Linked DNA regions of Homo sapiens. The protein of the gene in region 2 interacts with the protein of the main gene of each other region in a biochemical or structural test. Each region holds a gene or a part of one and is shown on either strand. Other genes may lie near its edges.

What was found. The genes of interacting proteins can lie anywhere in the genome.
Region 1: the proteins of ERCC6 (region 2) and FOSL1 form a complex in vitro, tested with the Homo sapiens proteins (one large-scale study listed by BioGRID).
Region 3: the proteins of ERCC6 (region 2) and RPS15A form a complex in vitro, tested with the Homo sapiens proteins (one large-scale study listed by BioGRID).
Region 4: the proteins of ERCC6 (region 2) and CTSB form a complex in vitro, tested with the Homo sapiens proteins (one large-scale study listed by BioGRID).

Annotation. Positions count from the first base shown.
Region 1 is NC_000011.10:65,894,469-65,897,388, reverse strand, and holds part of FOSL1 (fos-related antigen 1), read left to right. Parts: intron 1-382; coding exon 383-580; intron 581-2,920.
Region 2 is NC_000010.11:49,525,622-49,529,121, reverse strand, and holds part of ERCC6 (DNA excision repair protein ERCC-6), read left to right. Parts: intron 1-596; coding exon 597-705; intron 706-3,500. UniProt on the Homo sapiens protein: Involved in repair of DNA damage following UV irradiation, acting either in the absence of ERCC6 or synergistically with ERCC6. Involved in the regulation of gene expression.
Region 3 is NC_000016.10:18,787,535-18,791,739, reverse strand, and holds the start of RPS15A (small ribosomal subunit protein uS8), read left to right. Parts: upstream 1-1,405; 5' UTR 1,406-1,496; intron 1,497-2,621; 5' UTR 2,622-2,626; coding exon 2,627-2,759; intron 2,760-3,597; coding exon 3,598-3,677; intron 3,678-4,205.
Region 4 is NC_000008.11:11,847,588-11,851,087, forward strand, and holds part of CTSB (cathepsin B isoform 1 preproprotein), read right to left. Parts: intron 3,394-3,500; coding exon 3,279-3,393; intron 1,578-3,278; coding exon 1,459-1,577; intron 566-1,458; coding exon 480-565; intron 236-479; coding exon 92-235; intron 1-91. UniProt on the Homo sapiens protein: Thiol protease which is believed to participate in intracellular degradation and turnover of proteins. Cleaves matrix extracellular phosphoglycoprotein MEPE. Involved in the solubilization of cross-linked TG/thyroglobulin in the thyroid follicle lumen.

The DNA.
Region 1 (2,920 bases), on a different chromosome or scaffold from region 2:
CAGCCTGGGCAACAGAGTGAGACTCCATCTGAAAAAAAAAAAAGAAAAAAAAGAAAGAAAAGAAAATGAAGATATTACTGTGCCAATGATATGAGTCAGTATTTGTAAAGTGGTTAGAACAGTTCCTGGCAGTTTGTGCTTTATAAATGTTAGTTCTAATGGGGAAATGGGGGCACAGAGAGGTTATGTGACCTGCCCCAAAGCCACACAGCTTATGAGCAGGGATTTGCCACCAGGTCAGTCTCTGACTGCCAAGCTGTGCTCTTTCTGTTCCCAGAGCTAGCCTGTACATTGAAGGTAGACAGCAGTGTAGCCTCTGCCCAGTGGAAGCCCCTCAATCCACACGGACCTCATCTGTGGCCTTCCATTTCTTATTCCTTAGAAGTTCCACCTGGTGCCAAGCATCAACACCATGAGTGGCAGTCAGGAGCTGCAGTGGATGGTACAGCCTCATTTCCTGGGGCCCAGCAGTTACCCCAGGCCTCTGACCTACCCTCAGTACAGCCCCCCACAACCCCGGCCAGGAGTCATCCGGGCCCTGGGGCCGCCTCCAGGGGTACGTCGAAGGCCTTGTGAACAGGTAAGGCACAGAGGCATTGCAGTGGTTCCGACCCCGCCCAGGAGTGCTAGGGTGCAGAGAAGCTCCTGCCAGAAAGGAGAGCACAGGCTTAGGAGGGGGTAAGGTAGGCTACAGGTGACTACTGCCCAAGGCTGAAAGTGATAGGAGCCCCACGGGAGGCCCAGAGGGTACAACAGTCACTTCCAGATCAGGGAAAGCTTCCTGGAAAAGGTGGCATATTAGCCTAGAAGGATGGGTAGGACTGGCAGAGGCAGAGAGGAAGGAAAGGACATTCCAGGTAGCGGGGGTGGCAGGAGCAAGGATGGAGGCGGAGGCAAGAACATGTAAGGTGCGCACACGGAATGGTGAGGGGGTCTCCACCTGCTGACATGCATAGAGGGGGCGCTTATGTTGTCTGGGAGAGAACAGGAACAAGAGGGTTCCCTTCAGCTACTCCCTCAGTCTCAGTTTCCCTGTCTCATTTAATCCTCACAAAATCTCTCTGGGGAATGTACTCTGGTTTTCCCCATCTTCCACCAAAGAAATGAAGGCACAGAAGGGTAGTCACTTGCCCAAGATCACACAAGTAGTGAGTAATGACACAGGACTGGCCTTGGCCCCAGGTCTATACAACTCTAAAGTCAGATCCTAACCACCAAACCAGGGCCAGGTGCAGTAGCTCATGCCTGTAATCCCAGCACTTTGAGAGACCTAGGCAGGAGGATCACTTGAGGCCAGGAGTTCAAGACTAGGTTGGGCAACATAGAGAGACCCTGTCTCTACCGAAAAAACAAAATAAAATAAAACCCCCAAAACTAATCACCAAGCCACGCTGTCTCACTGGAAGCTAACAGAAGGCTCAAAGTAGAGGGAACTGACAATTCTTGGCTCCCCAAAGCCCTTACCAAAATAAGTGAGTAAGAGATGGCGAGTCTTTAAAGGAGTGGCTCATCTTTCCTCTCCCTGGGGCATTTTGGTGTGGGAGACTACAGGGGATGAGGTTAAAAAGCTTGGTCGGCAGGTAGAGGATGGGGAGAGAGGTTAGGGCCCTGGGAAAGGTGAGAGATCAGCCAGAGACAGGTTTCCCAGAACAGAATGTCTGGCCTTTGTGGTGAGGAGGGACTGTGGTATGAGCCGCAGAAGCGGGCCAGGGGTAAACCCTCCTGTGCGTCCTTCCTTCAGCCTGGTCCTGAGGGTGACCCTTTGATCCTGGGTTCTCCAGGTAGGGCTGTGAGCTGTGAGTTGGATCCTTTTGGTGAAATGGTCTCTCTCATCTGGCCTGTCACTCAATGTGGAATAGAGTGAGTGAGTTCTATGGGTTCTAAGTCCTGCTCTGGAACCATAAGTAAGTTATCCTCTCTGGGCTTCAGTTTTTCATGGAAAGTTGCGTTAAGAATCTAGTTTAAGGCCAGGCATGGTGGCTCACGCCTGTAATCCCAGCACTTTGGGAGGCCAAGGAAGGTGGATCATGAGGTCAGGAGATCGAGACCATCCTGGCTAACATGATGAAACCGTGTCTCTACTAAAAAATACAAAAAATTAGCTGGGCGTGGTGGAAGGCACCTGTAGTCGCAGCTACTCGGGAGGCTGAGGCAGGAGAATGGCGTGAACCCCGGAGGCGGAGCTTGCAGTGAGCCGAGATGGCACCACTGCACTCCAGCCTGGGCAACAGAGTGAGACTCCGTCTCAAAAAAAAAAAAAAAAAAGAATCTATGTTTTTTTAAAAAAGAGGCCAGCTGTGGTGACTCCCCCTGGTAATCCAAACATTCTAGGAGGCCAGTGCAGGAGGATCCCTTGAGCCCATGAGTTCCAGACCAGCCTGGGCAACACAGTGAGACCCCGTCACTACACAAAAAAAAAAAAGAAAAAAAAAGGCCGAGCACAGTGGCTCATGCCTGTAATCCCAGCACTTTGGGAGGCTGAGGAGGGTGGATCACCTGAGGTTAAGAGTTCAAGACCAGCCTGGCCAACATGGTGAAACCTCGTCTCTACTAAAAATACAAAAATTAGCCAGGTGTGGTGGTACATGCCTGTAATCCCAGCTACTTGGGAGGCTGAGGCACGAGAATCACTTGAACCCAGTAGGTGGAGGTTGCAGTGAGCCAAGATTGGGCCAATGCACTCCAGCCTGGGAAAGAGTGAGACTCTGTCTAAAAAAAATAAAATAAAATAAAATAAAATCTTTGCATGTTCTCAGTGAAAAACAAGAATCTACGTAAAGTACTTGGCTGGCACATAGTAGTTTTCCAATAAATTGCAACTTAATCAGCAGCACTCATTAGCCCCTCCTAGTGCTTACAGCTCATGGAAGAGGAGACTTGGTTGTCCACAGATCCAGAAGGATGAGGGTCCTGCAAAGAG
Region 2 (3,500 bases):
GTGATGTGGAAGGGAACAAGACAAAGAGGAGTCTGGCGTGGCCAGGGTGGAGAGGCATGGCAAGATATATTTTTTTCTTAAAGCTTTTTGATTAGGTAGAATACTAAAAGGACAGTCATAAATATAGTAGGTTATCAAAGGAGACTAACTTTTTCAATTGAACATTTGTGTTTTTATTTCTTATCTTATGGCCTGTTGACTTCCATAGCCCATTGGTTCTGAATCAGAAATACAGAGTAGTTTAGGGATTTGCCCAGTGTGTAAGGGGGAAACCAAGTAGAACAAGTCCACCTTTCAGGTCAGTGCCCATGTATTTAAGGGCTCGGGCACATAGAAGGCAGTCTGCCGTCCTCAGGAGAGCATGGGGGTGCAGGCATGCCTGTCTGCTGGGAATATTCACGGCCCCTTTACTCCTAGAAAAGTGGTAGTTGCTCACATAGGGCTCTCTAGTAATAGTAATGTATGGAATTTTTATGTAATGTATATTATTTTTATTTTACTTTGGATTTAAGTTTAAAATTTCATAATGCTATCTTTTGTATTTAACAATAAATCACTTCATTGCTGTTTTCTGTCTTCTATATTTACCATTCAAGGAACAACAGCTAAAAAAGATCACTGCAAAACAAAAGCATCTCCAGGCCATCCTTGGAGGAGCAGAGGTGAAAATTGAACTAGATCACGCCAGTCTGGAGGAGGATGCAGGTGAGGATGCTAGGAGCAGTTTCTCTGTGTTCTTGAATTGATGCCTGATGCCTGTAGTCAGTGGAGGGTGTCTCTTTAGTCTTTGCCTGGGTTTTGAGAAAAATACGTTTCTTTGCCTTAGTGTCAAAACAGATTTAGGAAAATTTTATTCTCTACACCTGCAGAACCAAATCCCTCTCAAAGAGAATTAAAGTAAACTTTTAACTCAGTTCATAGGAGGCTGCTGGTACACATTTATTATTACATTTAATACACTGGAAATCTTAAACATTCTTATTTTGTTAATTTGATAAAGACAACTAGCATCATGATTAAATTACATGTTGGAAGCCCAACATCATTAATCGCATTTGTAGAATGGCTCTCACGTGTCTTTAAAGAGCGTATTTGGCAGGCTTTCCAAGCATCAGTTTAAGAAAAGACATCTTCATTCAGGTACTCTGGGCAGTATTTCATTTACATTACTGTCTTGGATGGTTGTCTTTTGGAAAACTTTTTGGGAAAATTCGTAAGCTCTGGAACTAAATTATCTTTGCAGTCATTGTGTGTGTGTATGTGTGTGTGTGTGTACAAATTGTTGGTGGCTGCATAGGCATTGACTATTTGAAATACAGATTAAAGCTGCTTAGCATTAAATTCTCTAAGCAACTATTTTCTACTAGCTTTAGAAGTTTATTCAGTAAGATGAGAATTGTTATGAAGAATTAATTGAAGCAATAGAAAAAAATATGTATATTTTTGAAACAGAGTTTCGTTCTTGTTGCCCAAGTTTGGAGTGCAATGGCACCATCTCAGCTCACTGCAACCTCTGCCTCCCGGGTTCAAGCGATTCTCCTGCCTCAGCCTCCCAAGTAGCTGGATTACAGGCGCATACCACCATGCCCAGCTAATTTTTTGTATTTTTAGTAGAAACAGGGTTTCACCATGTTAGCCAAGCTGGTCTCGAACTCCTGACGTCAGGTGATCTGCTCACCTTGGCCTCCCAAAGTACTGGGATTACAGGTGTGAGCCACTGCACCCAGCCCAAAAGTACGTGGTTTTAAAGTTCAGCCTCTCAGAATTCATTAGGCCTATGACCAGTGCTTTTAACTGCTGTGTACTATGTTTCTCATTGATAACAGATGTTTGTTCCTGTCTGGCCGTCTCAGATCTGCTGTTGTCTTTCACCTCCTACTGTGACTTTGGTAGTAGGGTTAATAGCTACCTCTTAGGGTTAATAGCTAAAACTTTGGTAGTAGGGTTAATAGCTACATTGTCTAGGGTTAATAGCTACCTCCTCAAATCCAAGAGCCCCTTTTTATCCTTGTTCCACTCTGCCTGTCCACAGCAGCTGACACTTCTGTTCCTTGTGGGATCCCTGCTTCTCTACTGGTTTTCTTTTTAGCCCTCTGACTACTTCTGCATAGTTATTTCTGGCCATATCTTAAATATTGATGTTTCTCAGGATTTCTTTGAGCCCTCTTCTTGTTCTACTGCCTCTCCCTGGTTATCTATTCCCCATGGCTTTTGCAGCCACCTAGGTTCTACTAGTACCTTATACAGATCTGTAGACATCTGGCTTTGCTCTTTTTTTGAGTTCCTGGTTCCTATTATATCTCTCCGTCTGGACACCAGCCAACACTTGAAGACATGAACTGAAATTGGAAGTTACACCATAACTGTAAAGTCACCCAGAAAGTATCCCTCTTTCATTAGTTGAAATTCATCTCCGGCAAAATTACCACATAACCAAAATACCAAAAGACCTAAGGCTTAATAGGAAGCAAAATACTCAGTGTAAAGACCTAAGGCTTAATTGAGGCAAAATACTCAGTGTAAAGGAAAAGATTTGTTAAATGGACTATATATAAAACCAAGAACTTCTGTTCATCAGAAGATAGCATTTAGGGCAAGATACTGAGCTGGGGAAGATATTTGCAATACATGTGTGAATCAAAGGACTCAAATCTAGGATGTATAAAGAACTAGAAATCATTTAAAGAAACAGACAAACAAAAATGGGCGAAAGACTGGAACACTTCCTACACAAAAAAGGCTATCCAAAAGATAAATTCATGAAAGGCACCTATTTTGTTAGTCATCAGGGAAATGTAAATTATAGCCATAATGTGGTACCACTACACATCTACCAAAATAGCTAACATGGAATGGCAAGAATATACACCAGTTGGAACTTTCTGACACAGTTGATGGGGACTTTGGAACGTAACACTTTGGAAAACTGACAGTGTCTACTAAAGCTTAGCATACCCAGATATATATATATATATATATATATATATATATATATATATATATAAAAATATATAAATATATAAATATATAAATATAAATAAAACCAAAAGATGTGCATCAGAATATTCATAGCAACATTATTCCTAGTAGCCAAAACCTGGAAGCCACTCAAATGTGCATTAACAGTGAGAGTTAACAAACTACAGCTACATTCAACAGTAAGGATGCAGCTCAAAAGCATAATGTTGGGTGAAGGAAGGTGGACACAGGGCACAAACATTTCCACTTACGTAGCGTTCAGAGACAGGCACAACTTGTCTGTACGTTAGGAGTCCAGGTCCATCATTATCTTGGGGGGCGTAGAGGCTGGGAGGTAGCCTGAAGGGCTCATCTGGTGGTGCTAGTAATTCTGTTAGTTGATATGGCTGCTAGTTTATGAGTACATTTTTTCTGAATATTCACTGAGTTCTACACTTAATGATTTGTGCACTTTCAGATGTATGTTTTATTTCAGTGCAAGTTTAATGAAAAACTGGGTATCATTGGCCTGCAAGAATTGT
Region 3 (4,205 bases), on a different chromosome or scaffold from region 2:
TTTTAATCCTGTATTATTTCTTCTACTTTGTTTTGTGTAAAAGGGGAAAAAATAAAAAAAGCTGGAATCTTCATGTCTCACTTTCTTTATAACTTAGCCAATATAATATTTATGATTGGATTTATGAATCTGATTAATGAAGTACCCTGTGTGGTCCTTAGATGTCTATAAGGTACCCTACCTGTAATCCCACCACTTTGGGAGACCTGGGCAGGAGGTTCACTGGAGTCCATGAGTTTGAGGTTGCATTGAGCTGAGTGTACCCCTGCACTCTAGCCTGGGCAACAGAGCAGGACCCTGTCTAGGAAAAATTTTAAAAAAGAACAAAAATAAAAGGTTTAAGTTTTATTTAGCAAATATCCAGGTACCATGCTAGAGGGAAGAGGAAATGCAACGAATGAGCAGGGGCATTGACGTGTGAGAGAGGACGAAGCTGGAAGAACCGGCAGGGACAGAACTGGCTAAATGGTGCCTGTGTGGGCACCTCGTACCCCAGGGCCTTGCTAGCGTCTGGTACATGGGTGCTCAGTAAACAACTGTTGGGTGACTTTTGTCTGAACTTAACTTTTTAATTAAAAAAAAATTTTTAGCCGGGTGTGGTGGCTCACGCCTGTAATCCCAACACTTTGGGAGGCCGAGGTGGGCAGATCACTTGATGTCAGGGGTTTGAGACGAGCCTGGCCAACATGGTGAAACCCCGTCTCTACTAAAAATACAAAAATTAGCCGGGTGTGATGGCGGGCGCCTGTAATCCCAGGTACTCTGGAGGCTGGGGCAGGAGAACCGCTTGAACCCGGGAGGCGGAGGCTGCAGTGCGCCAAGATCGCGCCACTGGACTCCAGCCTGGGCGACAGAGCGAGACTCCTTATCAAAAGTAAACTAAAATAAAAATTAAGGCCCGCGCGGTGGCTCCCGCCTGTAATCCCAGCACTTTCGGAGGCCGAGGCGGGCGGATCGCAAGGTCAGGAGATCAAGAACATCTTCGCCAACTTGGGGAAACCTCGTCTCTACTAAAAATACAAAAATTAGCCGGGCGTGGTGGCGCATCTCTGTAGTTCCAGCTACTCAGGAGGCTGAGGCAGGAGAATCACTTGAACCCGGGAGGCGCAGGTTGCAGTGAGCCGAGATCACGCCACTGCACTCCAGTCTGGGCTACAAGAGCGAAACTGTCTCAAAAAAAAAAAAAAAATGTAGACGAACCTCCAACGAACGGCTCACCTTGCCTCTCCCAGGCCCCACCGGGGGAGGTCGATTCCATCGACTCTCAACTGCCAACCCCTGAGGAGGCTCCGCCTTTCCCTCACCCTCGTCCTTCTCCTAGGCGGTCCTTGTTTTTGCCGGGCCTTTGAAAGTCTCGCGATAGCTCTCCCGCTTCCCATAACTCCGTGCGCTCTCCCCTCCCGTCCTCTTTCCGCCATCTTTCCGCGCCGGTGAGTAGCACTCTCTGAGAGCTCCAATTTCATCCGTCTGCCATCGGCGCCATCCTGCAATCTAAGGTTCGGTCTCGGTGTCCTGCGAGGAGGCTGGTCCCCACCTTGGCCGAGGATCCTGGCCTTGCCGGTTCCTGGACAGGCATAGAGGAGAGCCATGGCTGGGCGCCCCAGACTGTGCACTCAGGGGATCCCGGTCCGTGGGGTGCAGGCCGCAGCGCGGGCGGGAGCCGGAGCCTTCGACTGCCCAGCTAGGCGGTAGCTCCGGTTCGGGCCGCAGCGTCTGGATCTCCCTTTAGTGCTGAGGCAGCGCCTTGGCCCCGGGCGGCGGGCAACATCGGGGCTGGTGGGCCGTGCAGCTTCTCACTGCTGCGGCCGCGCTGGGAGCTTGGGAGGCTGAGGCCACCCAGCAGGTAAAAGCTGCATCGTGCCGGGGTTGGCAGTTTGCTGGGTGCCAACTTGGATCTTCTGGGCCGCAGAGTTTTTCTTTAGACACTTTTGAACTTAAGGAATTTAAGTTCTACTCTTTACTATTGGCACTTTGGTCTTTCAAAACTTCAGTGTAGTGTGCGGTTCTTGCCCATTAGAAGAGAGTCCAGTCTGACAAGCATGTAAAATGTTTCTGTTTGCCACTGTGGCTCTTGCTGTTGGACGCAATTTTAAATGGCACGAAGATGGATGTTTAATAGTTAGATGTGTTCATTGTAGGTGAGAGTGAACTGATTTAAAGTACAATGTTAATAGTATGGAATCTGCTGATTTTCAGCAATTTGGAAAATGTTGCCGATGATACTCTGCTTCTGTTCTGAATCACTGATCGACTATACCCGATGTTTTCCTTCCGGTAGCTGGCAGTTTCTGCCAGTTCTCACGTTGTCTTGTGTCAAGTGGATTTTGTCCCACATTTTATTATCTCCAGACGTTGGTGTGTGGCACGATTCGAAGAAGAGTGGTTAGTGAATGAATGAGTTTCAAAATGTGCAGGCTGACGTCCCGATAACCTGTTTTCAACAACCGTAGTAAATAGGAATTTTCCTGGGTGGTGGGAAATGGAGAAGCAGCCTGCTTAGACTTGAGAAAACTTCGCCAAGGTGGGGCCAGAAAGGAAAGGATACTTCCGCAGTGTAATGGTTGGTGTCTGTTGATGTTGGCAATGCCAGTAAAACCTCCTGTTTTGTCTTCCTTGAACAGCCACAATGGTGCGCATGAATGTCCTGGCAGATGCTCTCAAGAGTATCAACAATGCCGAAAAGAGAGGCAAACGCCAGGTGCTTATTAGGCCGTGCTCCAAAGTCATCGTCCGGTTTCTCACTGTGATGATGAAGCATGGTAAGTCTGCTGCCGCTGTGTTTTATGTTTTCATGTGAGACTCTCTAAGAAATCAGTCCTGTAGAAATTAATTATGGGGGACCAAAGTATGTCTGTCATACCTGAGAACGAATGCAATTGACCTGTGGGCTGTGGAGGAGGGGATAGTCTGAAACTGCTGAAGAGTCACTTAGAGTAGGACTGCTGGAAAAAGGAGCTCTGCTAGGTGTTTGGGAGCTAAATGAATCTAAGTCATTGAAAGGACTCCTGAGCTCATTTCGAGACCAGCCTGGCCAACATGGCAAAACCCCGTCTCTACTAAAAAAACAAAAAACAAAAACAAAAATCAGCCGGTCGTGGTGGCAGGCGCCTGTAGTCCCAGCTCTTTGGAGGCTGAGGCAGGGAGAATTGTTTGAACCCAGCAGGTGGAGGTTGCAGTGAGCCGAGATCGGCCACTGCACTCCAGCCTGGGCGACAGTGCAAGACTCCATCTCAAAAAAAAAAAAAAGAAAGAAAGGACTCTTGAGATCTTCTCAGAGCTCTTTGAGAGGAAAGATTGGATTATTGCACTTCTTTGGCACAAAGTAGTCTTTGGGAATGGGAAGCAGTGAAGGAAGGGTCAAGGGGAAAATAGTTTCTTTCAGAATTGCAAGGTGGATTGTTTTGGGTATTGTCTCCCAATTCTTATATGTTAGGTTGTAAAAATTAGTTCTGATACAGAGCAACTGTCTTCCCCCCAACTTTTTGGAGAAGCAGTCACTGAGGTGATGGGAGAGTGAAGAATTGAGTAGGCTAGAGCACAGAGGTTTAGCTCTCAAGTTGATGTCTTTTATTTAATCCAGTCAGTTATCTTTTGTAGGTTACATTGGCGAATTTGAAATCATTGATGACCACAGAGCTGGGAAAATTGTTGTGAACCTCACAGGCAGGCTAAACAAGGTAAGAACGAGTGATCTACACATTTCAAAGCTTTAAGAATTTTTTACTGTGGCGTTAAATGTTGTAATTGCCTTTGGAAATACTGAGTAGTGGTGCCATACTTGATTTATCCAGTTACTTTAAAAAGGTTTAAAAATTGACACATGGAACTTCATTTGCTCTCCTGGGTTGATTGTGCTAGGATTATGTCAGTTGACCTAGTGTTTTTATGGGGTATAAGCTGTCTCAGGAGAGATGGGGGGTGAAACCAACGCTGGTACTGGTATTTGGATGTTAACGCTACCCACCTCACTGGCTTGAACTTGGGTGGCTCAAGGCCATTGAGCCTTTTGTCCAAGGTGCTGTGTCCTTCCTCTCAGTGATGTGTTGGGTTTTTTGAATGGAATCTTTATCTTTGAGTAAATGGGGCTTTCTAAATAGCAATATGAATACTTTTTCTGTTTTTGCTGGCATAGGTCTTTGGGGTCTATGCTGCTTTTCAGTTTGACTTGTCAACACCTTAACCAAGTAAAACTGACTTTGTGGTTT
Region 4 (3,500 bases), on a different chromosome or scaffold from region 2:
CTCAGCCCTGACCTCTTCGCTGCAGCGTGAGGAGGGATGCAGCAGCTCCCCAGCCTCCACGTGCGCCGTGGCCAGGCCCCAGGCCCCTTACCGTAGTGCTTGTCCTGTTTGTAGGTCGGGCTGTAGCCAGGCTCACAGATCTTGCTACACTTGGGGGTATCTCCCTCCCCCGTGCATGGGGGCCGGGAGCCGTTGACGTGGTGCTCACAGGGAGGGATGGAGTACGGTCTGCACCCTGATGGGACGCGGGAGAAAGCGGAGTCAACCTACAGCCCCCACGGAGAAGACCTGGGGCAAGGCAAGCCTCGTGCCTGCAGCATGGACGCCAGGCAGGTCCTGCCAGAGGCCTGTGCACCTGGCTAGCACCTCTCAGCAGCCCCTCTGTCTCAACCCCCAGTTTATAAAGGCAAATAAAGCCATGATGGTTAATTGCTCAAACAATCCATCTGGCCAGAAAGTGGCCAAGGGGACACACTTACCTACATGGGATTCATAGAGGCCACCAGAAACCAGGCCTTTTCTTGTCCAGAAGTTCCAAGCTTCAGCAGGATAGCCACCATTACAGCTGAAAAGACAGCCTCTAATGAAAACCTCTGAGAGAAGCACCACCAGCTCTCCAGACCACTGTGTGCTACCCAAGTGCCCGAGGCCACTCGTGGACCCACCCCCAGCTGCAGCAAGTGGTGCGAGCAGACCTCCCAGACCCCAAACCCTCCAAGGGACGCTCCCTAGATAAGCACAGCTTGCAGGGAATAACCGCCAGCCCCACCCCTGCCCACAAAGATCCGGGAGAAGACAGGAGGCTCTCCTGTTCATGTCCATACCAGACCAGGCTACGAGTGCCCTTCCGGGTAGAACACTGATTCTCAACTGAGCAGACGCTAAACTTCCCTAAGGTACTTAAAAACACCACCAGTTCTCTGAAATGAGAATCGCCAGTGATTCCCATTTAACTAGTTAGGGGAGAAGCCCATGCATTTTTTTAAGCCCTCAGGCATTTCGGATCTGCAGCCGCCAGTGAACACCGCTACTGCGGAACCAAGGCGAGGCTGCAGGCAGCTGGAGCAGAAAGTTCTGTGCCACCACCTTGTTGTTAAGGTGGAGCCATCCCCGCTAACTACACATAAGGAAATGCCCCAAACTGGTTCCCCAAGCAGGAAAAAGGAACATGCGATGACACAAACCAGACCAGGGGCCAGACATTCCACCACATTTTCTGAAACTGACTGTTTTGCTGGGATGCCACCCCTCAGACAGCTCTGCCGGGCCAGCCTTGGTTCAGGCACCTCCCAGGAAGCAGCAGCCTTGCCAGGCCCTGCCTGCCAGACTCTCGGAGTCTCCCCGAAACACTTCTGACTCGCAGCAGTCCCAGGAAGTCCTCAAAGTCCCCTCCACTGAGAAGCTGGGGCCCAGGGTCTCTCAGCACTAAACCCGCTGTGGAAGCACAGCCTGACTCACCCGTCCCCACACATGCTGCCACAGCATGTGAGCAGGTCCTCCGCCGACACCTCCACGCTGACGTGCGCATTGGTGTGGATGCAGATCCGGTCAGAGATGGCTTCCACAGCCCCGAAGGCCTGCAGGAACGAGCCCCACCGGGTGAGGCTGCCATGTCCGGGCTGGGCCCTCTGCAGCAGTCCCCTCAAAGGGCCACAGGGGCACCTCAGACCTTGTAGGCAACTGATCTCTCAACACCAGGGGACGCTCCTGGGGCTCAAACTCAGCTTTTATTTTCTTTGGTAGAAATGGGGTCTTGCTACGTTGGCCAGACTGGTCTTGAACTCCCGGGTTCAAGTGATTTGCCCACCTTGGCCTCCCAAAGTGCTGGGATTAGAGGCGTGATGAGCCACTTGCCCCACTCTCCTGCCTCAACGATTTGCCCAACTCAGCTTTTAAAGCAAGAGAAGCACCCCCGTGAACCTCTGCCTGGAAACTGGGTTCATTTCTGAAATCTGCAAAATGTGTAGTATTAGTTTGTATGTGTGTGTGTGGTTTTTTTTTTTTTTCCTGGAGGCGGAGTTTCACTTTTGTTGCCCAGGCTGGAATGCAGTGGCGCAATCTCAGCTCACTGCAACCTACGCCTCCTGGGTTCAAGCAATTCTCCTGCCTCAGCCTCTATAGTAGCTGGGATTATAGGTGCCTGCCACCAGGCCCAGCTAAGTTTTGTCTTTTTAGTAGAGACAGGGTTTCACCATGTTGGCCAGGTTGGTCTCAAACTCCTGACCTCAGGTGATCCGCCTGCCTCAGCCTCCCAAAGTGTTGAGATTACAGGCGTGAGCTACCGTACCTGGCTGTGTTTTTTTCTTAACAAAAAACACAGCTCACCCAGAAAATAAATACTGTTGTGATCCACTTGTATGAGGTCCCTAGGAGTCAAATTCATAGAGACAGAAAGTAGAGTGGGGCTTACCAGGGGCTACAATATTGGTGTTAATGGGGACAGAGTTTCTGTCTTGCGAGCTGAAAAAGAGTTCGGGGGACAGATGGTGGTGGTGGCTGAGCAACACTGTGAATGTACTTAATGCTACAGAACTGTACACTTGAAAATAGTTGCTGGGCACGGTGGCTCACGCCTGTAATCCCAGCATTTTGCGAGGCCGAGGAAGGCAGATCAACAGGTGAGGCGTTTGAGACCAGGCTGTCCAACATGGCAAAACCCCATCTCTACTAAAAATACAAAAATTAGCTGGGCGTGGTGGCACATGCCTGTAGTCTTAGCTACTGGGGAGACTGAGGCAGGAGAATTGCTTGAACCCAGGAGGCAGAGGTTGCAGTGAGCCAATATCCCACCACTGCACTCCAGCCTGGGTGACAGAGCAAGACTCCATCTCCAAAAAAAAAAAAAAAAAAAAAAGAAAGAAAAAGAAAACAAAAGAAGATTGCTAAGATTATTACATTTCTGTTACGTGTATTTTACCACAATTAAATGACAAAATTAAGACAGCTCACTGACACTAAAGGGATGCTTTCTTGAAGCAGAGTAGCAGTGAGAGCTCCTGGTATTTGCGGACGGGCCAGCATGTCAGGGAAAGGGAGCTGCTTCGCCACCTGTACACGTGGACTTGCAATCTGCTGGATGCTCTGCCCGCCACTCCACCTAATCCTCGCCATCATTCATGGCCAGAGGGATTGTGATTTTTGTACTGATGGAAACTGGGACTCAGAAAGTTTCTATAACTTGCCTTGTCAGAGTTGTCCCCACCCCGAATCCCCCAAGACTCTCCAGTGTTGCTCCCACTTTCTCTCCAGCGCTTCCCCGCCAGCCAGCAGGGCCTTACCCAGCAGGAGCCACAGGAGCCCTGGTCTCTGATCTCTTTGATGGTGGGACACTGTGGCCATTGTTCCCGTGCATCGAAGCTTGCAGGCAGCTTCAGGTCCTCGGTAAACATAACTCTGGATAAAGGAAGGTCTTCATTACAAGCTCTGATCCCACAACTCCCTCCCCAATCCCTGCAAAGGCCACTTTGGCTGGGCCACACTCCCCTAACAAGGAAATGAGC